Linked DNA regions of Homo sapiens: region 2 is linked to region 1. The links come from fine-mapping of genetic effects on gene expression. A gene starts in region 1. The other region holds a variant in brackets. All regions are shown on one strand. Distances are from middle to middle. Region 1 holds the start of PCCB (propionyl-CoA carboxylase subunit beta). Region 2 overlaps PCCB (propionyl-CoA carboxylase subunit beta).

Region 1 (12,706 bases):
AAATACAAAAATTAGCTGGGAGTGGTGGCACGTGCCTGTAATCCCAGCTACTCAAGAGGCTGAGGCAGGAGAATCACTTGAACCTGGGAAGCGGAGGTTGTGGTGAGCTGTGATCACTCCACCGTGCTCCAGCCTGAGCAACAAAGCGAGAACCTGTCTTTTAAAAAAAAAAAAAAAAAAAAAAAAAAAAAAGCTAGCCGCAGTGGCTCACACCTGTAATCCCAGCACTTTGGGAGGCCAAGGCAGGCGGATCATGAGGTCAGGAGATCGAGACCATCCTGGCTAACACGGCGAAACCCTATCTCTACTAAAAATACAAAAAAAATTAGCTGGGCTTGGTAGCACCCACCTGTAGTCCCAGCTACTCGGGAGGCTGAGGCAAGAGAATCGCTTGAACCCAGGGGGCAGGGGTTGCAGTGAGCCAAGATCGCACCACTGTACTCCAGCCTGGGTGACAGGGTGAGACACTGTCTCAAAAAACAAAAACAAACAAAAAAAAGCCGCCATTGCTTGGGCTCCCAAGCTCTCAGCCCCAAGCAAATACCCTAGCCTACCGTCCCCTTCCCCAACAACAACAAAAAAAACCACATACCTCAAATTGGCTATTATTTCCCCCTTAGGAAAGTAGCCAAAGCTGGTGAGGTTGTGTTTAAAATAACAAACAAAAATCAGGCAATCCTATACACTGTCACGTAAAGTAGAATAAGTTTTTAGGAAACCAACTTGGCAACATATATACAGATTTTTAAAATATATTTATACTGACCAGGCACTGCAGCTCACACCTGTAATCCCAGCACTTTGGAAGGCCAAGGTGGGAGGACTGCTTGAGCCCAGGAGTTGAGACCAGCCTGGGCAACAAAGCGAGACTCTGTCTCTACCAAAAAATAAAATAAAATAAAATAACTAGCAGGGTAGGAGGCTGAAGTGGGAGGATCACTGGAGCCCAGAGGTCGAGGATGCACTAAGCCATGATTACACCACTGCCCTCCAGCCTGGGTGACAGAGTAAGACCCTGTCTCAAGAAAAAAAAAAAAAAAAAAAAATTCTGTCATCCCAGCACTTTGGGAGGCCGAGATGGGAGGATCACCTGAGGTCAAAAGTTAGAGACCAGCCTGCTCAACATGGTGAAACCCCGTCTCTACTAAAAATACAAAAATTAGCCAGGTGTGGTGGCACGTGCCTTAAATCCCAGCTACTCAAGAGGCTAACGCAGGAGAATCACTTGAACCTGGGAAGCAGAGGTTGTAGTGAGCCACGATCACTCCACCGCACTCCAGCCTGAGCAACAAGGTGAGACCCTGTCTTAAGAAAAAAAAAGAGGCCATGTGCAGTGGCTCACGCCTGTAATCCCAACACTTTGGGAGGCCGAGGCAGACGGATCACGAGGTCAGGAGATCGAGACCATCCTGGCTAACATGGTGAAACCCCGTCTATACTAAAACTCCAAAATTATAGCCAGGTGTGGTGGTGGGCACCCGTAGTCCCAGCTACTCAGGAGGCTGAGGCAGGAGAACGGCATGAACCCGGGAGGCGGAGCTTGCAGTGAGCCAAGACCGCGCCACTGCACTCCAGCCTGGGTGACAGAGCAAGACTCTATCTTAAAAAAAAAAAAAAAAAAAAAAAAACCTCCATTGCTTGGACTCCCAAGCTCTCAACCCGAGGCAAATACCCTAGCCTACTGTCCTATCCCCCCCTCCCCGAAAAAAACAAAAACAAACAAAAAATACCTCAAATTGGCTATTATTTTCCCCTTAGGAAAGTAGCCAAAGCTGGTGAGGTTGCATTTAAAAAAAAAAAAACAAAACAAAAAACAGGCAATCCTATACACTGTCATGTAAAGTAGAGTAAGTTTTCAGGAAACCAATTTGGCAACATATATACAGATTTTTAAAATATATTTATACTGACCAGGCACTGCGGCTCACACCTGTAATCCCAGCACTTTGGAAGGCCAAGGTGGGAGGACTGCTTGAGCCCAGGAGTTGAGACCAGCCTGGGCAACAAAGCGAGACCCTGTCTCTACCAAAAAAAAAAAAAAAAAAAAATTAGCTGGGTAGGAGGCTGAAGTGGAAGGATCACTGGAGCCCAGAAGGTCAAGGATGCAGTGAGCCATGATTACACCACTGCCCTCCAGCCTGGGTGACAGAGTAAGACCCTGTCTCAAGGAAAAAAAAAAAAAAATTCTGTCATCCCAGCACTTTGGGAGGCAGACGCGGGTGGATCACCTGAGGTCAGGAGTTCAAGACCAGCCTGGCCAACATGGTGAAACTCCATCTCTACTAAAAATACAAAAATTAGCCAGATGTGGTGACACATACCTGTAACCCCAGGTACTCTGGAGGCTGAGGCAGGAGAATTGCTTGAAGCTGGGAAGCAGAAGTTGCAGTGAGCTGCTGCACTCTAGCCTGGGCAACAGAGTGAACTCTGTCTCAAAAAAAATAAATAAACTTACACCCTTTGACCCACTAATTCCTCTTCTGGGAAAATCTACGGAAATGGTCAAAAATTGTTTTAAAAGGGGTGCAGGGCCGGGTGCAGTGGCTCACACCCATAATCCCAACACTTTGGGACGCCAAGGTGGGTGAATCACTTGAGGTCAGGCGTACAAGACCGGCCTGGCCAACATGGTGAAACCCTGTCTCTGCTAAAAATACAAAAAAAAAGTTGCCAGGCATGGTCGTGGGCACCTGTAATCCCAGCTACTTGGGAGGCTGAGGCAGGAGAATAGCTTGAACCTGGGAGGCAGAGGTTGCAATGAGCCAAGATCGCACCATGGCACTCCAGCCTGGGCAACAAGAGCAAAACTCCGTATCAAAACATAAAAATAAAAAGGGGTGCAGGAGGGGGTTCATATTAAATCAGCCTCCTAAGTTAACTTTGGCAAAAGAAAAACAGCTTCTGGAGGCTTCATCTAAACCTAGTAGGATCTACCTGGGAAAGGGCTAGGCGATGTTCCAGGGAAGAATTGAGCAATAGGCCCCAACAGAAAGAGTGTACAGGAGCACTGACAGGCCTTTCCAGAGGATGATCTAACATCTCCCTCAGCCCTAACAGAGTAGGTTAGAAGTAGCCCCAGGGGAGAGAAAGCACTCCTAGCACCACAAACCATCACTAAATTTACATTTCACTCTCAAGTGTCAAAAGGAACTGTTACCTTTGGACCCTTGTCAAATGCGAATTTATGACATCTGAATCAATATTAGACAAATATAGAGCTGTTCAAATCTCCTCACTTTAAGACCCCATCCCTCCCCCAGTGCCTCCCTCATGGTTGTGAGTTGTGCCTGAATACTCTTCATCTGTAAGAGTTTCACTTCTGCACCTTCCCGTTGGTTAATTCGTTCAGCACAACGGTCCAGACTCACCCACCAGTCACGGACACACTGGGCAAGCCTGGTTTCAAGTCAGGGATCACCTCTCCAAAATGGGCCGCCCAGCTTATCTCTGAAGGCCAGCTGGATTCTCGCCTCAAAACCCAGGCGGTGGGTGGCAGTGTTTCAACTGCTCAGTCCAGCCAAACATCGAGAGTAGCCTGCGCACTCCCAGAAAGGCCACCTGCTTCCGACACGTGCCTTTGCTACCCATCAAGGCGAGGCATGCTAAGGCCCTAAAGAGCTCGACCAGGCATTCTGCGGGCAGAAGTTCCACAAGTTCCTGCACGCGCACATCCCCCATTTCATGTTAGTGGAGTATGCCCAAGTTCAGTTTTCCTGCTTCCACAAAGGAGAAAGAACCTACCATCACTCTTTCATGGGGCACGAGAATAAGCACATGGTTTTTACTGAGCGCCTATCATTTTGCTATCTATGGTCTAACGATACACTTGTGAAGGAAGAATTATTATTAAAATGACCCACAGAGATTTAATAAGTTGCCCAAAAGCTTATGTTAAGTGTTGAGCTGGCTAGAGACGAGCCAGATCCGTCTAAATCCCAAGGGTTAAACAGTATGAAAAAGCACACAGGTGCTTCTGCTGGTTATACCCGCCTCCACGAGAAACGCTACAGGTTTTCAAGGTGAACACCCTTGCTCCGGCCCCTCCAGGCACCGTGCGGATTGGCAGGGAGGCCTCGGACGCCGCAAGCCGGGCACGCAGTGATAGGTCGCGGACGCCAGGGGCGGGACTCACTTAGGCCCCTCAGGACTCACTCGCTTGTGCTGCGCGTCAATACGGCGTTGGCCCCCTCCCAGCAGCGCGGTCCGGCGCTTGTTTTCGATGCGTTCGTTAACAGAGGTGGCCTGGCTGCAAAGGCTGCGGACCGCGGCGCGGAGACCGCTCGCCAGAACGCTGAGCCTTGCCCCGACCGCCGCCACCCGTAATGCCGCCGCCATTTTTGCTGTGCCGGCGCGTCCCCTACCGGCGCACCTGAGTACGCATGTGCTAAAGCGTGGGTACGGCGCTTGCGCAGCATCGGCTGGCTGTAGGGAGCCGCGGGGGCTGGACTACAGAACCTGCTTGGGAGTAAGGCGTGAGAGTTCGAGACCCGGTGCTGCCCGAGGAGGGTCGCGCAGAGAAAAAGTACAGGGCCTGCCTGGCTGCACAAAAAAGGGACATAGTCCTTGCTCTTCTCTGACCACCTAGACCCTTAACTTTGTCGTCCCACTTCCTACAGAAAATGATTATAAGATTTAACCAACATTTATTAAGCATTGTGCCAGGTGTTGCTTTTTGCACTTACCATGCACTAGCTTACTATCTGGATTTCACAGATGAGGTAAATCAAGCACAGAGAGATGAGTGATTTGATCAAGAGGCAAGACTGAGGCCGAGGTAGGTGAGCCCAGGAGCCCAAGACCAGCCTGAGCAATATAGTAAGACCCCACCTCTACAAAAAAATTAAAAATTAGCTGGGCATGGCGGCTTGCACCTGTGACCCCAGCTACTCGGGAGGCTAAGGCGGCAGGATGGCTTGGCCCAGGAAGTCGAGGCTGCAGTGAGCCGTGATTGCATCACTGCACTCCAGCCTGGGCAAAACCCTGTCTCAAAAAAAAAAAAAAAAAAAAGCCAAGACTGACAATGTGGTTGGCCAGGATTCAAACTCAGAGACCTATCATTAATATGTGCCAGATAATGAGCACAGGACCCTTAACCTCTAATCAGTAGTTCTCAAAGTATGGATCCCATTAAAGAAAAAACTATTCATGACACTTAATTATTCATGTTTAAGAATGGTAAGGCAAACTTTATTCAGGCCCAATCTGACAGAGGTAGGGATAGAGTTTTGCCATAAGTCAGAGCGATTGGGCTGAATATAGCAAAGTGGTAATTTATAGCTAAGGGGCAGTGTGTGGAAGTCAGTGGATGGAAAATTACTAAGAGGAAACATTGGCGGGGAATCTGGCTAAATTGACCTAACAGGATTCCTGCCCAAGGCAGGTCAGGGTAACTGAACATCACCTGGGGGATGGTGGCGGTATGGGTCAAAACCAGATATGGAGAGTAATCAGATATCAAGAATGGAGGATTCTGGCTAAACTGACTTGGCAAGTTTCTTGCTAAAATGGAATTCCACAAGGAATGACATGGGAGCCCACACTCAGGCCTAGTCAAAGAGAGAGCTCAGAAGAGCCTGACCAATGTTTGATCAAGGAGGGAATCTTGTCAATCCAGCAACTTCAGTATCACCTGGGAGTGAGTTGGAAATGCAAGCTCGAATTCTCAGAACTTACTCCAGACCTTTAAATCAGAAACTCTGGGGCTGGGGCCAGCCATCTGTTTTAGCAGATGACCTTTAGGTGATTCTGATCTGCTTGCTAAAGTTTAAGAACCACTGCTCTAGGAATTTGGAATTGTACTGTTGAGAGCTTGACCATCTGTTTCTCCCACTAACAGGCAGGTCTTCAAGACAAAGAACATGGTTTATATTTCTCATTTTTAGCCACAGAAAACTGCTAAAGTTGATCATGAGCCCTTCCCAGATCCAGCTCATAGCCAGGGCCTTCATAAAGTACAAATTCTGACCTATGACCTTAATGTTAATGCAATTCAACTCAGAAAACATTTTTGAGCACCTACCATGTGCCAAGAACTAAACATCAGTACTGATTGCATTTCCTGGAGTAGTAACAGTTCATCTAGATAGAGAGGGCAGCTTAGAGGCCAAAGCCTCTTGGCTAGGCAAAGCCCACCTGTATCTGTATAACTCCGTAATGGGTACTCTTGACCTTGCATTTGGGTCCTTGCTTTAAAGACTTTACCAACCTAGAGAGGCAGATGGACAACCTAGAGAGGCAGATTGCCTTGGGAGCACAAGAGAGAATTTGAGTAAGGCTGAGTGTGTTGAGGAGAGTTTCTCCAAGAAAGCATCCATATGCCAGGGAACAGAAGCAGTGTGAGCAAAGGCCTGGCATGTTCAGATTCACATACACAGACACACACACATACTTTGTTGTGTTCCCAGCTTTTGGGGAAATGGTGGTAAATGAGACTGGAAAGTGAGAATGGCATTAGATTGTGAAGAGTTTTTTCATGTTCAGAAATTGGGACTTGCTTTTGGCCTGGGGGCAGTTGGACTCCCTTGTCCCACAGTGCCTTGTAGGTTCCTTACATAAAGCACATCTCACACTGTGTTAAGATTGTTTAGCTGTCTTCCTAGACAGACTCTCCAGCCAAAGGTCAGGGACTGCAGCTGATTTGCTCACCACTGTGGTCCCAGCACCTGGAACAAGGCCCAACGCAGAGAAGGCCTTTAGAATGTATTTGTGAAATTGAATCGAGCTAGCAAATAGGCAATTGCATGTGAGTCCAGAGGTTTTCGCCCCCTCCTCTATGTCTTTTCAGGCTCTGAAACCTGCTCAGGTATCATCTCCTCCATGCAGTCTATCCTGATCCTCAGAAGCAAGGAAGTTTTTCTTATTTAACTTTAGATAACCAGTGCTTAGTAGAAAACCCAACACAGGGAGGCTCACTGAACCTAACTGCTTCCTCCAGCTAGTCCTCTCTCCCTCCACTTCTTTCTCACTGTCCTAATGCCCTGCCTATGGGCACTCCATAGTTCTATAGATCTGTAATGTTATTCCTCAGACCTCACATGCAAGCTCCAGCTTGGGGCAGGTGGGTGGGGGTAGGAGGAAGTTGGAGGTAGGAGGCAATTATCCAGTAATTGCCCTTTAATACCACTATGCTCCAGGCTGCTTTCCTGTCCTTAGTCCCCCCGCTGGTGGCTGTGTTTGAGTTTTTTTCTCCATTGTGAGACAGGAGTCACCCTGATCTTTTAGTTTTCTCACTTTCTGAGACAGTAGAGCTGAAAATTTGGAGTCAACACCTGGGTACAAATCTTGCTTCTGCCCTGACTTCCTGGATAACACAGGGTCATTCACCTAAGGATCTCAGTTTCCTCTGTAAAAGTGGAGAGGGGGTGATCTGTGAAACCCTTGTGTTCTGAGTTTGTTACCCATGACATAATAACAAGAGCCCAGTCATTGGTGTTAGACTGTCCTGAGGTTAGTTCCAACTCTGCCAGTTACCTCTGTGTGACTTGGACAACTTGGCCTCAGTTTCCTCTTCTGTAAAATTGGAATAATAATAGTTCTACCTCAGAGTTGTAAGGTTTATTTTTATTTATTTATTTATTTATTTTTGAGACAGGGTCTTGCTCTGTCACTCAGGCTGGAGTGCAGTGGCTCAATCTTGGCTCACTGCAACCTCCCCATCCCAGGTTAAAGCGATTCTCCTGCCTCAGCCTCCCAAGTAGCTGGGATTACAGGCGTGTGCCACCACGCCCGGCTAATTTTTTTGTATTTTTTGGTAGAGATGGAGTTTTACCATGTTGGCCAGGCTTGCCTTGAACTCCTGATCTCAAGTGATCCGCCTGCCTCAGCCTCCCAAAGTGCTGGGATTACAGATGTGAGCCACCATACCTGGCCAAGTTATAAGGTTTAAATGTAAGCAGCTAACATAATGCCTAGCAAATGTGAAGTACTCTTTAAGTGTTACCTAATAGATTACCAGTAGTATCCTGAGATAGTCTTATTTACCAGAAATTTTCATGAGTTCTCCTTAAAGTGAAGGACAGTGATACATTTCAGAGTATTTGTTCACTTCCTTCCACAAGGAGTGAGGATGGATGGGGGACAGTGAGGTGCCAACATTTTCTGGCCATTCTAGGCCAGTCAGTTACAACTTTCAGCAAAGATGAGTGCAATGGTAGGAAGGAGGAAATGGAAGAGGTCACAATTTAGTCTGGGTCTTCAGAGAAGCAATTGCCAAGAGGGGAATTAACATGCAAGAAATCAATTAAGGGGGCCAGGTGCAGTGGTTCACTCCTGTAATCCCAGCACTTTGAGAGGCCAAGGCAGGGGGATCACCTGAGGTCAGGAGTTCAAGACCAGCCTGGCCAAGATGGTGAAACCCCATCTCTACTAAAAAGAAAAATTAGCCAGGCATGGTGGCGCACGCCTATAATCCCAGCTACTCGGGAGACTGAGGCAGGACAATCACTTGAACCTGAGAGGTGGAGTTTGCAGTGAACCGAGATCACGCCACTGCACTCCAGCCTGGGCGACAGAGCAAGACTCCATCTCAAAAGAAAGAAAGAAAGAAAGAAATCAGTTAGAGGAACCACCTGTGAGAAAAAGTGGGGAGACAGTGGGAGAAGCTGGGAGGCCCATGAGATTGCAATGCAAATCTGACCTCCAGTCAGGAAGAGAGGGAAGGAAGGAAGGTGGGTGGGAGCTTCTCAGAATACCGTGCAGTTTTAAGGAAAGTTCAGCAAGGTTGTTGGGGAGTACAGGAGCCAAAGTATTTTTGCCGCAGCTATGCTGGGAGCAGCCCGTGGAAGGTGTAACCTCAGTGCAAATTTCAGCAGTGAATTTCAGAGCAACAGCTGGGGCTCTCAGTTACTATGTTCAGTACAGTCCAGGTGTCTTCTCACAATAGAGTTTGGGGTGGTTAGGAGTAAAGGGAGTGAGAGAGAGGAAATTTGTGAGAATAGCTGTCATCCATGTGGAGAGAAGAGATTTTAAAGATTTTTTTTTATTTTTTGAGACAGGGTCTCACTCTGTCACCCAGGCTGGAGCGGATTGGCAGGATCACAGCTCACTGCAGCCTTGAACTCCTGGGCTCAGGTGATCCTCCCCACTCAGCCTCCTGAGTAGCTGGGACTACAGGTACATGCTACCATACCAGCTAGATTTTTAAGATTTTTGTTTTGCATTAATTATGTACTTCTCTCCTTGGTGTGTGTGTGTGTGTATGTGTGTGTGTGTTTTAACTGAATAAAAAATGAAGTGCTTAAAATTTACGTTTACCTTTATTTTTTCTTTTTTTGAGATAGGGTCTTGTTCTGTTCCCCAGGCTAGAGTGCAGCATTGTGATCATGGCTCACTATAGCCTTGACCTCCTGGGCTCAAGCAATCCTTCACCTAAGCCTCCCCCATAGCTGGGACCGCAGGCAGATGCCACCAAGCCTGGCTAATTTTTTTTTTTTTTTTTTTTTAAGACAGAGTCTCCTTCTGTCACCCAGGCTGTAATGCTAGAGTGCACATCTTGGCTCACTGCAACCTCTGCCTCCTGGGTCCAAGAGATTCTCCTGCCTCAGCCTCCCAAGTAGCTAGGACTACAGGTATGTGCCACTGTGCCTAATTTTTTTGTATTGTTAGTAGAGACGGGGTTTCACCGTGTTGGCCAGGCTGGCCTTGAACTCCTGACCTCAAGAGATCCTCCCGCTTTGGCCTCCTGAAGTGCTGAGATTACAGGTGTGAGCCACCACACCTGGCCCTAATTTTCTAATTTTTTGTAGAGACAATGGTTTCTCTATGTTGTCCAGGTTGAAAATTCACATTGTTATTGCTGAACTGTGTTTCTTTGATGCCGAGATTAGAACCCAAGAGTCCTAGCTTAAATTCTACTTAAAATTCTTATTAAGACCTGGAGCCTAGGCCATGCGCAGTGGCTCACATCTGTAATCCCAGCACTTGGGGAGGCTAAAGTAGGAGGACTGCTTGAGGCCAAGAGTTTGAGACCAGCCTGGGCAACATGGCAAGACATTATCTCTACAAAAAATTAAAATGTTAGCCAGGCATGGTGGTGCACACTTGTAGTCCCAGCTATTCCAGAGGCTTGGGGAGGAGGATCCCTTGAGCCTAGGAGTTTGAGGCTGCAGTGAGCTATGATGGCACCACTGCATTCCAGCCTGGGTGACAGAGCAAGACTGTCTCTAAAAAGAAATAAAATTTAAAAAATTTTAAAAGACATGGAACCTCATTGTCCCCAGACTACACACATTTTCCAAGCCACCTTGAGAAATCCTTATCTTTTCTGACTCCCTGGGCTCTCTGGGAAAGCGCAGGCCGGTAGCAGTGGATCACGCCTGTAATCCCAGCACTTTGGGAGGCCGAGGCAGGCGGATCACAAGGTCAGGAGATCGAGACCATCCTGGCTAACATGGTGAAACCCTGTCTCGACTAAAAATAAAAAAAAAATTAGCCACGCGTGGTGGCAGATGCCTGTAGTCCCAGCTACTCAGGAGGCTGAGGCAGGAGAATGGCGTGAACCCAGGAGGCGCAGCTTGCAGTGAGCCAAGATTGTGCCACTGCACTTCAGCCTGGGCCACAGAGCCAGGCTCCATCTCAAAAAAAAAGAAAGAGCAGAGCTGGTTTGTTCCTTTTTCCAGAGCTGCTTCTAGCTGTTTCTATTTTTTTTTTTTTTTTTTTTGAGACGGAGTCTCGCTCTGTCACCCAGGTTCGAATGCAGTGGCACCACCTCGGTTCACTGCAAACTCCGCCTCCCGGGTTCATGCCATTCTCCTGCCTCAGCTTCCCGAGTAGCTGGGACTACAGGCGCCCGCCACCACATCCAGCTAATTTTTTTTGTATTTTTATTAGAGATGGGGTTTCACCATATTAGACAGGATGGTCTCGATCTCCTGACCTCGTGATCTGCCCACCTCGGCCTCCCAAAGTGCTAGGATTACAGGCGTGAGCCACCACGCCAGGCCGTGCCCGGCCACAGTTTCTATTCTTGCTGAGCTGCTTTTCACTTGCCGTTTTTACCCTCTGTTGGTACCACCCTTTCAGCATTCCCCTGACCTCCACCACATGCCCTCCTCTCCCTTGTCCTGTGATTTCCACATCAGGCTCACTTTTCCCCTTCCCTGTCTTCCACTGCCATTCTCAGACTCCATTCAGAGTCTTCATGCTGATACCCTCTGATTCTATGGCCTAGGAATTCCTTAGCCTCCTCAACATGAAGGGACTTCAACTCTGTTCCACTCCAGCCACCCACACACTGGGCTTTGTAATTACTGAGAATTGCTTCACGTCTAGGAGTGGAACCTGGCAGTTCTCTCTACCACCTCCTTTTCTGCTACCTTTCCCACGCCCTTCACACTGAATCTGGTCCATCCTTTCCGTGTAACCTTTTAATTCCCTCATTCTGCCTACTGGCCTCCCTCAAGCCCTTGAATTTCCATTTAGATCACCATGCCTTGGCCCAAGCCTTCTTTTGGATCACTCTGATTCTGCTAACAGACTGCCCATGGTAGCTGGCAGAACTCACAGAAATTATGCTAGGTATTTTAATTTCCTTGGGCTGCTGTAGCAAATTACCGCAAAGTTAGTGGTAAAACAACAGAAATGCGTTCTCTCATGGTTTGGGGAACCAGGAGTCCAAAATCAAGATGTCTTGAGGGCTATGCTCTCTCCAAAGGCTCCAGGGCAGAATCCTTTCTTGCCTCTTCCAGCTTCTGGAAGCTCTGGTGTTCCTTGTTTTGTGGCATCATGACAGCCATCTCTACCTCCATCTTTGTGTGGCCTTCTTCCCAGTATCCTGGTATCTGTGACCTCTCTCCCCTTTTTCTTTTGTTCTTTTTTCTTTTTTTTTTGAGATGGAGTCTCGCTCTGTCACCAGGCTGGAGTGCAGTGGCATGATCTCAGTTAATTCCAACCTCTGCCTCCTGGGTTCAAGTGATTCTCCTGCCTTGGCCTCCCGAGTAGCTGGGACTACAGGCATGTGCCACCACGCCCAGCTAGTTTTTGTATTCTTAGTAGAGATGGGGTTTCACCATGTTGGCCAGGATGGTCTTGAACTCTTGACCTCGTGATCCGCCTGCCTTGGCCTCCCAAAGTGCTGGGATTACAAGCGTGAGCCACTGTGCCCAGCCTCCCCTTTTTCTTATGAGTCACCAGTCATTGAATTTAGGGCCCATCCTAAATTTAAGATGACCTCATTTAGAAATCCTTAACTTAATTATATCTGCAAAGACCCTATTCCCAAATAAGGTCACACCCACAGATACCAGGTCTTAGGACCTGGACATATCTTTTAGGGGGGCACAATTCAACCCACTATACTAGGTCACCACAGATTCTTGCTGTTCCTTGCTGTTCTCCCCAACCCCATTTCTGCATGTCCAAAGCCCATGTATCCTGTCCCAAACACCATTTCTTCCACAAAGCATGTCCACAATTTCTCAGTTATAAGCACCTCTTCTTCCTCTAAACTCTCATCTGCTTTTTGTTTCTCATTTGTAGCTTTTATCAAGTTCTACATTTTAACAGTGCTGTCTATGTGAGAGAGAATTCCACTTTCTCTGGTTACCTGAGTGCTCCCCAGGTGTCTGGTCACCAAACTTCATGTGGAAATCTTTGGTCTGGCTAGAATCATTTATGTTGTTCCTGCTGACACTGAATATGCAGCCCTGGGCTCTGTACTGTATGGTTCCTGTCTCTCTCTTCTTCCCTAACCAGTTGTCTGTCTTTCTGT
Region 2 (12,706 bases), 61 kb before region 1:
ATTTTTTGTAGAGACAGGGTCTTGCTATGTTGCGCAGGCTGGTCTCAAACTCTTGGCCTCACGCAATCCACCTGCCTCAGCCTCCCAAAGTGCTGAGATTACAGGCATGAGCCACTGTGCCCAATTCACAATTTTCTTTTGTTTGTTTGAGACGGAGTCTCGCTTAGCTGCCCAGGATGGAGTGCAGTGGCACGATCTCGGCTCACTGCAATCTCCGCCCCCTGGGTTCAAGCAATTCTCCTAAGCCTCCCGAGTAGCTGGGACTACAGGCACGCACCACCATGCCCAGCTAATTTTTTTGTATTTTTAGAGATGGTTTCACCATGTTGGTCAGAATAGTCTCGATCTCGACCTCGTGATCCGCCCACCTCGGCCTCCCAAAGTGCTGGGATTACAGGCGTGAGCCACCGCGCCCGGCCACTATTTCTTATTATATGACATTATTCAAGTTTGCCAATTGTTCCAATAGTATCCTTTATAGCAGCACAAGCAACAAAATTCTGGTCCAGAACCTGAGCCAGGATCACCTGGTGCTTTTAGTGGTTATATCTCTTTAGGCTCCTTTAACTTTCCCCCTCCATCTTTGTCTTTCATAATCATGACATCTTTGAAGACAACAGACCAGTTAATTTGTAAAGCATGACTTCTATTTGGGTTCCTTTGGTATTTCTTCATGTTTAATTTTGAGCTAAGCCTTTCCACAGGAGTACCACAGAAGGAGCATTCTCATCAAGTGGCACAATGTGTTGATTTGTCCATTAATGATGGTGATATCTGCAGGTTTCCTTGTAAAGTTACTATTTCTCCAATTTAATAAGAATTTTGTGAGGAAATACGTTGAGACTACATAAAATCCTGTTCTTCAAACTTTAATCATTAATCTAGTTCTTCATCCACTAGGTTTAGCATCCTAGCAGCCACCAAGCAGCCATGATTCTTGCCTGACTCATTACTGTCATGATAGCTGCCAAATGGTGAGTTTTTTTGTTTTGTTTTTTTGTTTTTGTTTTTGTTTTTCTTGAGACAGGGTCTTACTCTGCCACCTAGGTGGGAGTGCAGTGGAGCAACCTCAGCTCGATGCAACCTCCACCTCCCAGGCTCAAGCGATCTTCCCACCTTAGCCTCCCAAGCAGCTGGGACCACAGGTTCATGCCACCATACCTGGTTAATTTTTGTATTTTTAGTAGAGACAGGGTTTCACCGTATTGGCCGGGCTGGGCTCAAACTCCGAAGCTCGAGCAATCCGCCCTCCTTACAAGTGTGAACCACCACACCCAGCCCAAAGGGTGAGTTTTCCAATTCCACTTTTCTTCTCCATTTATTAGCTGACATCTACCACAAGAAAGATCTTTGCCTTTCCCATTTACTTATAGGTATCAATATGAACTTATAGATTGTTTTATTCTATGGATTATAATCTTTCACCATCATTTTATGTTTAAATTGTCCTATATTTACCAAAGTTCCTTCATGCTGGTTCCTGTGTCCTTCTAAAGTGTCCCCATCATTCTTTGAGCACTACCTTATATTTTGGAAGTATCTTACTTTCTGGTTCATCTTGGTTTCTTTCCTGCCCCAGCCCTACAATCAGCCATTTCTCCAAAAGGCCTGGGTTCCTTTTAGGGATGTGTGTGTGTGTGTGACTCCTTCTAAAACGTCCAAAGTCCAGCTATATGAAAAACCATGAGTTCATGCTGATAATTCTAATCCTACTCCAGTGCAACTATAGGGTTCATTCTAGATTTTTTTCTCTTGCCATATTCACAACTCCCTTCTCCGATAGCAGAATCTGGCTGCTACTACCCTCAAAATGTACTTATTTATTCGATCCTCAAATACAGAGAAAATGGTTTCAGAACTGCTAACTTAGCTACAAAAAACAGACCTACTAGCTAGAATTTTTTTACAGCTATTTTGGTCTTTAGATTAAAGGTATATAGTCAAAATATAGGTTCAAAAGACACTCATTTAAAACAGGTTCATGTTTGTATTTCATTTTAAAGGTTTTCCCCAGTCTTGATTTTATTTTTTAATATGTAAAATACTAATACAGTTTAATAGTGTTCCTTCCCCATCCCTTCCACCCTAGTCCCACCTACCCTGTTATTAATCTCATTATTTTCTGATGTATTATGTGTGTGTTTGCATTTGTATCTTTTAATTTACCCTTCTTACATGGAAAGTAACAGTACAGACACTCTTGCACTTTGAATTTTTTCACTTAATATGTCCTGGGAATCACTTCCTATCAGTTCATAGAGATCATCATTCTTTTTCACTTCTGCATAGTACTGTACTGTGTGATGTACCAAAGTTTATTCAACCAATCTACACGTGGCTTACATTATTTTAAAATTTACATTTAGGTTATTTAGAGTATCTCGCAATTACAAATGACAACGTAATGGTCGTAACCTCGTACATCTATAATTTTGTATGGTGGGAAGTGTATCTTCAGGGTAAATTGCTAGGAATGGGATTGCTGAGTTAAAGGGCAAATGCTAATTTAGTCCTGGATAATACCAGAGTCCCCTACCAGCAATGCACAGGAGTGCCTGCTTCTCCACTGACTTTCCAATGGAAAGTGTTTTCGGGGTTTTTATTTTTAGCCAATCTAACATATGAGAAAATACTCAGTGTAATTTGAATTTGTATTTCTAGCATTATGTATGAAGTTGAAAATCTTTTGACATGTTTAAGGTCCATTTTATATCTTTTTTGTGAGCTATCTATCCGTGGTTTTTTGCCCACTTTTCTATCAATTTTGGTTGTTAATCCCTCAGCATAAGAGCTCTTTATTAAGAATATTCATACTCTGGGATACATGCTGCCAAGAGTTTCTTCTAGCATATTGGTTGCCTTTTGATTTTATTTATAGTTTTTTGCTATGAAGAGTGGGATTTTAAAATTTTCACAGTCAGCTTTGTCTATCTTTCACTGAAACTAGTTGAGTTACAGTTCAAAAGCATTTCTAAACCTTCCCCTAAGGTTTCAGAGGAATTCATCTGTGTTTTCTTTTAGTGCTTGTATGGATTCACAGATTATATTTAGTTTTCTGACCCATTTGTAGTTTATTTTTGTACATGGTGTAAAGTATGAATCTAATTTTATATTTTCCTAAATGGCTAGTCAGTTGCCCCAGCATCATTTATTAAAAGCTAATTTTTGCCCCTGAGATTTGATAAAATATCATTATCATATACAGTTGGGCACTACACAAAGAGGTTCTGGTCAATGACAAACTGCCTATAGGAAGGTGGTCCTATTGTAATACCCTATTTTTACTGTACCCTTTTTATGTTTAGATACATACTTACCATTGTGTTACAACTGCATACAGTGTTTGGTACAGTAACGTGCTATACAGGTTTGCAGCCTAAGAGCAACAGACTATACCACAGATCCTAGGTGTGTAATAGGTTATACCATCTAGGTTTGTGGAAGTACACTCTATGATGGTCGCACAAAGAAACTGCCTAATGATGCATTTCTCAGAACACATCCCTGTTGTTACGCAACGCGTGACTGTACTAAAATTCTGTATGTACTTGAGTCTATTTCTGGCTCTTTTATTCTATTCCACTGGTCTATTTATGTGCCTGTACCACAGTTTTAACTATAGGATGCTGTAATATAAAGCATGGCTAGTCCCCACTTACAGCTTTTCTTTTGCAGTATATTCTTAGGTATTCTTGCACTTTTATTTTTCCATGTGCACTTTTGTATAAACTTATCTAGTTCTAGTTTTTAAAAACTGTTTATTGGGATTGCCTTAAATTTATAGAACAACTTAAGAATCACCAGTTTGTTAATAACATTAACCCCAGGAACAAGGAATGTCTTTCCATTTGTTCAAGTCTATTTTAATGTTTTGTTTTGTACAGACAAGGTCTCACTATGTTGCCCAGGATGGTCTCAAACTCCTGGGCTCAAAGGATCTTCCCTCCTCAGCTTCCTAAAGTGCTGGGATTACAGGTGTGAGCCACCATGCCTGGCCTACTTTTGATTTTCAAAAGTGTTTTTAAGATCACCCTGGGCTGGGCTTGGGGGCTCACACCTAAAATCCCAGCACTTTGGAAGGCCAAGGCAGAAGGATCGCTTGAGCCCAAGAGTTCGAGACCAGCCTGGGCAACATAGCAGGAATTCTTCCTACAAAAAAAAAAATATTAAATCAGGTGTGTGTGGTGATGCATGCCTGTAGTCCTGGCAATGTGGGAGGATTGCTTGACCAGGAAGTTGAAGCTGCAGTGAGTTGTGACTGGGTCACTGCACTCCATCCTGGGTGACAGAGTGAAACCCTGTCTAAAAAAATAAATTTGCCCTAAAACAGCTTCTGTACATTCCTGTTAAAATTATTACTAAATATTTTATCTTCCTGTTGCTATGTAAGAGAGGCTTTTACTCTACCATAATTGGTTACTGCTTGCGTATATGAAGATTTCTATATGTTAATTTTGTATCCTGTTCCTCAAGTATTGTTTTAGTATAATAATGCATTCTCTAGAGTTTTCTTGAATACTACAATACTATATCACCTACGTTACAGCTTGACATCTCTCCCAAGGCTTTTGTCTCTAATTGGTCCTCTTCTTGGATAACTGTATTGGTTAATATTTCCAGAACAATGTTAAATAATAATGGGAATAATGGGCATCCTATACTTGTTCCTAATCCTAGTAGAAGCTAGTCTTTATTAGGTGAGATGCAGGCTTTTGAAAAGGTCTATACCAAATTTTATTACATTAAGAAAGTATTAATTCCTATTTTATGAAGTCTATCAGGAATAGGTATTGATGTTTCTTAAAGGTTTTCTTCAGCGTCTATATAAATAATTGTGATTTTTCTCCCCTATATGTGTTAATACAGTATATTATTGAGTTTCCTAGAACCAATCTTGCATTCCTAGAATACATCCCAGTAGGCCACAGATATAATTTTAAAGAAATAAGCAATATGAAACTGAAATCTTAAGTACTACCTTTATCAGGTTCAGGTACTGATATCATACTTCTTTTAAAAAATTTTGGAAGGTTCTTGTGTGTTTTGTTTACTTTCTATGCTCTGGAAGAATTTATGTGGCACTAGGACTATTTGGCCCTTAAAGGTCTCAGAAATTCCACATGAAACTATTTGGGCCTGGTGTTTGTTTGTTTGAGACAGAGTCTTGCTCTGTCACCCAGGGTAGAGTGCCGTGGCACAAACATGGTTAACTGCTCCCTCAACTTCCTGGGCTCAAGTGAACTCCCACCTTGGCCTCCCCAGTAGCTGGGACTACAGGTGCATACCACCATGCCTGGCTTTTTTTTTTTTTTAGATGGAGTTTCGCTCTTGTTGCCCAGGCTGGAGTGCAATGGCACGATCTTGGCTCATCGCAACCTCCGCCTCCTGGGTTCAAGCAATTCTCCTGCCTCAGCCTCCCGAGTAGCGGGGATTACAGGCATGTACCACCACACCTGGCTAATTCTGTATTTTTAGTAAAGACGAGGTTTCTCCATGTTAGTCAGGCTGGTCTCGAACTCCCGACCTCAGGTGATCCGCCCACCTCGGCCTCCCAAAGTGCGGGATTACAGGTGTGAGCCACCTTGCCTGGCCCTAATTTATTTTTTGTAGAGACAGAGTTTCGTCATGTTGCCCAGGCTGGTCTCAAATTCCTGGGCTCAAACAATCCTCCCGTTTTAGCATCCCAAAATGTTGGGATTATAGGCATGAGCCACTGAATCCAGCTCCTTGTGCTTTTTGGTGAAGTAATTCCTTCCGTGGAATTTGGTGGTTCATTTAAGCTTCCTATCTCTGATGGGATCAATTTCTGTTAAACTGTGTTTTCCAAACAAATTTTCCAATGTATCTTGTCTCTTAGAATTTTTTTTTTTTTTGAGACAGGGTCTCACTATGTTGCCCAGGCTGGAGTATGATGGTGCAATCACAGCTCACTACAGCCTTGAACTCCTGTGTTCTAGCAATTCTCCTACACTGAGGCCTCTCAAGTAGCTGGGACTATAGGTGCATGCCACCACACCCAGTTAACTTTAAAAATTTTTGTAGAGACAGGGACTCACTATGTTGCCCAGGTTGGTCTTCAACTCCTGGCTTCAAGCGATCCTCCCACCTCAGCCTCCCAAAGTGCTGGGATTATAGGCATGAGCCACCACACCTGGCCTCTTAACGATTCTTAAGTTTCTTCTTTTTCAATGGTTATTCCCTTTCTCACTTCATACTTCTGCTTTTACTGTCTCTTTTTTGAAGTTAGCCAGTGTTTACTAATTGCAGCTATTCTTCTATTTCCATCATAAATTTCTGCATTTATCCTTATTAAATTATTTCTTGGATTTATTCTGAAATATTTTACAGGGTTTTTTCCCCTGGCTTTTCCAGTTGGGAATCTGTTTTTCTTTTCTTTTTTTTTTTTTTTTTTGAGATGGAGTCTTGCTCTGTCACCCAGGCTGGAGTGCAGTGGCACGATCTGGGCTCACTGCAACCTCTGCCTCCCAGGTTCAAGCGATTCTCCTGTCTCAGCCTCCTGAGTACCTGGGATTACAGGCACATGCCGCCATGCCTAGCTAATTTTTTGTATTTTAGTAGAGACGGGGTTTCACCGTGTTGCCCAGGCTGGTCTCAAACTCCTGAGCTCAAGCAATCCACCTGCCTCGGCCTCCCAAAGTGCTGGGATTACATGTGTGAGCCACCGCACCTGGCCTGTTTATTTTCCTTCTCTGATTTTTACTGTTTCAGGAAACAGATTTTCATCTGTTCATCGTTTTAAACATATTCTATAGGTTTTGACACATAGTGTTTTGTCTTTTTTTCTTTTAGAATTCTGTCATTTGGTTTCTATTTTCCCCTTTCATCCAAGAATTGTTTACTAGAAGATTTATTTCCCGGCTGGAGGCTACTTTTGTTTTAGTTGCTACAAAAGTTTCTAATTTTAAGCAATGTTGTTTCACAGTATTTTTTGCTCTATGGGATTTAA[T/C]GATGTTTTCTTTCTGATCTAATACATATGATCAACTTTTGTGAATATTCCATGTGCACTTCAGAATAAGATTTATTGTTCATTACCAGGGTGTAAAGTCCAAAAGAAATGTGTAAGATCTACCTATTACGTTATTTAGGTCTCCTAAATTATTACTTTTGTCCATTTGACCTGCTTTGTAATAACAATGCTGTGTATACATCTCCTATTCAGTCTTTCTACCTAAGTCTGTTGAATCTCCTATAGTTTCAGCTTTATAAAGATGGTGGTTATTTCTGGCACAGATATTCGATATGCTTTACATTATCATTGTGAACTATGGCTTTTAGCAGTTGAAAATGTCCTTCCTGGGAAGCTGAGGCAGGAGAATCACTTGAACCTGGGAGGTGGAAGTTGCGGTGGGCTGAGATTGTGCCACAGCACTCCAGCCTGGGTTACAGAGTGAGACTCCATATCAAAAAAAAAAAAAAAAAGTCCTTCCTTATTATGGTTAATACCTGAACTTTACTCTGTTCAATATTAGTGTCACAAATACTGCTGTTATTGTTTCCATTCTCCCAGTATATTTCTGCCCATTCCTTATTTTTAGCCTTTCTGAATCACATTTATATACTGAATATAATTGGTCCATAACAAATTAGACATATTTTTAACAAGTGAATCAAACCCATCCATATTTATTGGTATGACACTTTTTTACTATCATATTATTATTATTATTATTATTATTTTGAGATGGAGTTTCACTCTTGTTGCCCAGGCTTGAGTGCAATGGTGCAATCTCGGCTCACCACAACCTCTGCCTCCTGGGTTCAAGCGATTCTCCTGCCTCAGCCTCCCGGGTAGCTGGGATTACAGGCATGTGCCACCACACCTGGCTAATTTTGTATTTTCAGTAGAGATAGGGTTTCTCCATGTTGGTCAGGCTGGTCTCAAACTTCCAACCTCAGGTGATCTGCTCGCCTCAGCCTCCCAAAGTACTGGAATTACAGGCATGAGCCACCACGCCTGGCCTGTCATATTATTTTTTATAATTACTATGTATTCTATATTTATTGTCTTTTACCTTTTTTTTTATTTTTCCCCTTTATCATTACCCACAATGATATATACTGTTTATGTGAGTAGTATTAAAGAATGTTTGTATTTTTTAGTCTAGTGGTTACCTTTGTAATTATGCCTTTTGATGCCTTTAGTTCATTTCCTTAATCTTTTATTAACTAGTTTGTTTTTAATGATATCTGTTAGCTAACAATAATCAGTGAGCTGATTCTGCAATATTCTTCCCCTCTCTTCTCCTCCCATTTTTCAGTTGCATTTTTTTCTGAAACTAAACATATAGTACTTATACATTGTTCTCTACCCTCATCCCCACTTCTGTTTTAGTCTTAGAATTATAATTAAGTATATTAGATAATCACTACCAATCCTTTTGTTGAAATTTCTCCAGCTACCTCTTGATTGGATAAAGCTCATTCTCTAGTAGATTCCTCAAGAAAGCCTCATTAACACAAACTTCCCTCGGTTCTTGGTTTAAAACTGGTTTTCTGCAGTCTTAATACATGAAGGTGAGCTTTGCTAAACATAAAATCCTTAGTCACAGATTCTTTCCTTCAGCCTCCTGAAAGTGCTTTTCTGTTGTTTCCTTGCTTTTCTACGTTGCTTTGGAGAAGTTGGATGCCATTTTATTCTCTTGCCCTTGTAAGTCATTTGATTTCTGCCCAAAGGTCCTGAGTATTTCTCCTTATTTTAAAAATCGAACAGTTAATATTTTCTCTAGTTTGACAATTCTGGGTCAATTTTCCCACGTGCTCAGTGTGCTCTTTCATTATATAAATCTGAATCTTATTTTATTTCTGGACTATTTTCTTGGATTACAGTTTTAAATATTAAGTCTGTTCTACTGGTTTTTCTTCAGACACTCCAATTATATGTATGTTCATTCTTCTTTGCCTTTCATTGTAGTCACTTTTTTCTCATACATTTAACTAAGAATTTTAAAAAATTAATCCCAGATGTGACAATATAACCAATAATTGTATTAAAGGTATCTGTACTATTTTAAAATTTTATAATTGCATATATGTACAACGTACATGTTTTCATATATGTATACAGTGTAGGATGACTAAAGCTAGTTAACATATCCACCACCTCACATACTTTTTTGTGGTGAGAATGTAAAATCTACTTTTACTTTTTTATATTATTTCATTCATTTTTTAGGCTATTTATCTACTTTTCTTTAATGTTCCTTATTAAATTTTCATTGAAATACATTCTCCTTTGAGCACCTTGCAATTTTGATATCATTTCTGATGCAATTTTGTCTCCCCTGCCCATTTTCTTAATTCAATCAGCTTTAACTTCTTACTATTATCTCTCCATCTTGTCATTAGTTTCTGAATTTTCTATTTTTACAACCTCAAATGCTTATCAGGGGCTACTGCACTCAGATTGAAGCATAGTCAGCTGCTTCATGATTGACTTTTACAGTGAAGGGAGTTCCATCAACTGACATGTTTCATTCTCACTTTTTGTTTTCTTATTGTAGCTTTATATAAATGAAAACTATTTGTATCTGCATTCTCCAAAGCTGGCAGATGAACAAATGAACAAAAATCCTAGTTCAAGAGCACCCTCTTCTGTCAGTATAGCAAAGTGCAGTTTAGTTCATGGGTGACTAATTTTAGGGAGGGTGATGGGGAAAGATGTAGTGTCCTTCAGTGTATTCGATTTTGTATGTCTTGCAGGTACATAAATGTAACCCCCTTGCTTCATTTTCCCTTCACAATTTCCAAAGGTACCTCTCTCTTTCCTTTGTACTCTTCTTCCCCAGAAGTAATGCCTTCCCCTGACTACCGTATTGATTTGTGTGTGCACTCTTAAGTAGCTTCTAAAGTCACTGCTTTGACTCTTTTCTAGCATATTCACTTTTTTTCTTTCTTTTTTTTTTTTTTTAGAGACAGTTTCACTCATCGCCCAGGCTGAAATGCAATGGTGCAATCTCAGCTCATTGCAACCTGTGCCTCCCCAGTTTAAGTGATTCTCCTGCCTCAGTCTCTCCAGTAGCTGGGATTACAGGGACACACCACCACACCCGGCTAATTTTTGTATTTTCAATAGAGACAGGTTTTCACCGTGTTGGTCAAGCTGGTCTCGAACTCCTGACCTCAAGTGATCCACCCGCCTCAGCCTCCCAAAGTGCTGGAATTACAGGCATGAGCCACCACGCCCGGCCAGAAGAAGTTTTTTTAAAAAGCAAAATAAAAAAGTGTAATAATACAATACTTTTTGAGTTAAAAGTAAATATATGGTCTAGGTGCAGTGGCTTACACCTCTAATGCCAGTAGTTTGGGAGGCCGAGGCAAGTGGATCACTTGAAGCCAGGAGTTTGAGACCAGCCTGGCCAACATGGCGAAACCCCATCTCTAAAAATACAAAAATTAGCCAGGCATGGTGGCACACACCTGTAATCCCAGCTACTTGAGAGGCTGAGGCAGAAGCATCTCCTGAACCTGGAAGGTGGAAGTTGCAATGAGCCGTGATCTCGCCACTGCACACTGGCCTGGGCAACAGAGTTAGACTCTGTCTCAAAGAAAAAAAAAAGTGAATTTGGAGAGAGGGATGTTCCAGAGGTAATTAAAGTTAAACGGGGCCATAAGAGGGGGACCCTAATCTGTTAGGACTGGAATTCTTTTAAAAATTGGAAAAGCTGGGTTGGCGCCCGTGGCTCATGCCTGTAATCCCAGCACTTTGGGAGGCCGAGGCAGGCGGATCATGAGGTCAGGAGATCAAGACCATCCTGGCAAACATGGTGAAACCCCGTCTCTACTAAAAATACAAAAATTAGCCAAGCGTGGTGGCGGGTGCCTGAAATCACAGCTATTCAGGAGGTTGAGGCAGGAGAATCACTTGAACCCGGGAGGCAGAGGTTGCACTAAGCTGAGATTGTGCCACTGCACTCCAGCCTGGCGACAGAGTGAGACTCCATCTCAAAAAAAAGAAAAGAATTGGAAAGCCAGCCGGGCACAGTGGCTCACATCTGTAATCCCAACACTTTGGGAGGCCAAGGCGGGCAGATCACGAGGTCGGGAGATCGAGACTATCCTGGCTAACACGGTGAAACCCCGTCTCTACTAAAAATACAAAAACAAAATTAGCCAGGCATGGTGGTGGGTGCCTGTAGTCCCTGCTACTTGGGTGGCTGAGGCAGGAGAATGGCGTGTACCCGGGAGGCAGAGCTTGCAGTGAGCCGAGATCACGCCACTGCACTCCAGCCCGGGCGACAGAGCCAGACTCCAACTCAAAAAAAAATAAATAAATAATTGGAAAAGCCAGCCTGGGCAACATAGTGAGTTGCCATCTCTACAAAAAATTTTAAAATTAGCCAGATGTGGTGGCATGCAGCTATAGTCCCAGCTACTCAGGAGGCTGAAGTGGGAAGATCACTTGAGCACAGGAGGTCAAGCCTGCAGTGAGTCAAAGTCACACCGCTGCACTCCAGCCTGGGTGACAAAGCAAGACCCTGTCTCTGAGGGAAAAAAAAAAAAAAAAGACGAAGAGATACCAGAGATCTCTTTCTGCATGCACTGAGAGCAAAGACCTCGTGAGGACACAGCAAGAGTGTAGTCCAGAAGCCAAAGAGACACAGACCTCAGAATGAAGCCAACCCTGCCAACACCATGATCTTGGACTTCTAGCCTCCAGAACTGACAGAAAATAAATTTCTGTTGTTTAAGCTATGCAGTTTATGGTATTTTCTTATGGCAGCACTAGAACACTAATACATAAAGCAAATACAGGCCAGGCACGGTGGCTCACACCTGTAATCCCAGCACTTTGTGGGGCCAAGGCAGGTGGATCACCTGAGGTCAGAAGTTCAAGACCAGCCTGGCCAACATGGCGAAACCGTGTCTCTACTAAAAGTACAAAAATTAGCCGGACATGGTAGGGCTCGCCTGTAATCCCAGCTACTTGGGAGTCTGATGCAGGAGAATTGGTTGAACCCAGGAGGCAGGGGTTGCAGTGAGTAGAGATTGTGCCACCGCATTCCAGCTTGGGTGACAAGAGCAAAACTCTGTCTCAAAAAAAAATTTTTTTTAAATAAATAAATAAGTAAAGCAAATACAACATCGATACCAAAACCTGATTTTAAAATACCTTAAAATATACGCACTAGTATCACATAATATCAATGCAGAAACTCAAAACATTAGCAAACAGAATATACAACTTCAGGAATGAAGGAAGTTTAGTATTCAGAAATCTACTAGGATAGATTTATAAATAGATCTAAGGAAGAAAATCACATGATCATCTCCAAAAACACTGAAAGTGCATTCAACAATATTCAACACTCATTCCTAACTTTAAGAACAAAATAAACAACAACAAAAATATTTAAAACAGAAGCCAGTAGTAGCTTCAACATGAAAAAAGATATAAATTAGGAAACACTGACAGCAGTCTTGCTAAACTTACAAACAATACAAAGATGCCCAGAATCACAACTATGATTCACCATTACATTTGACATATAGGGAGTTGTAGCCAATGCAAGACAAGGAAAGAAATGACATGTAAAATAACTGGAAAGATAAAATTTTATTCATTTACTTATTTTTGGCGATGGAGTCTTGCACACCAGGATGGAGTGCAGTGGCAATGATCATAACTCAGAACAGCCTCAAACACCTGGGTTCAAGCAATCCTCCCATCTCAGCCTCCCAAGTAAAT

Evidence for each region. PIP is the estimated chance that this variant, and not a neighbour inherited with it, causes the effect.
Region 2: its variant is fine-mapped to the expression of PCCB in whole blood (TOPMed, PIP 0.92).

What each region holds. Positions count from the first base shown.
Region 1 is chr3:136,242,005-136,254,710 of GRCh38, reverse strand. PCCB (propionyl-CoA carboxylase subunit beta) reads right to left here and starts at 4,371. Exons shown (of 15, transcript NM_000532.5): 1 at 4,153-4,371. The coding sequence starts at 4,335. RefSeq lists enhancers at 3,897-3,946, 4,577-4,636, 3,866-4,732.
Region 2 is chr3:136,302,969-136,315,674 of GRCh38, reverse strand. All of the region lies in intron 9 of PCCB (propionyl-CoA carboxylase subunit beta), which reads right to left. Among named protein-coding and RNA genes, the nearest start is that of PCCB, 59 kb to the right of the region's middle. The variant T/C (reference allele first, on the strand shown) is at 6,968.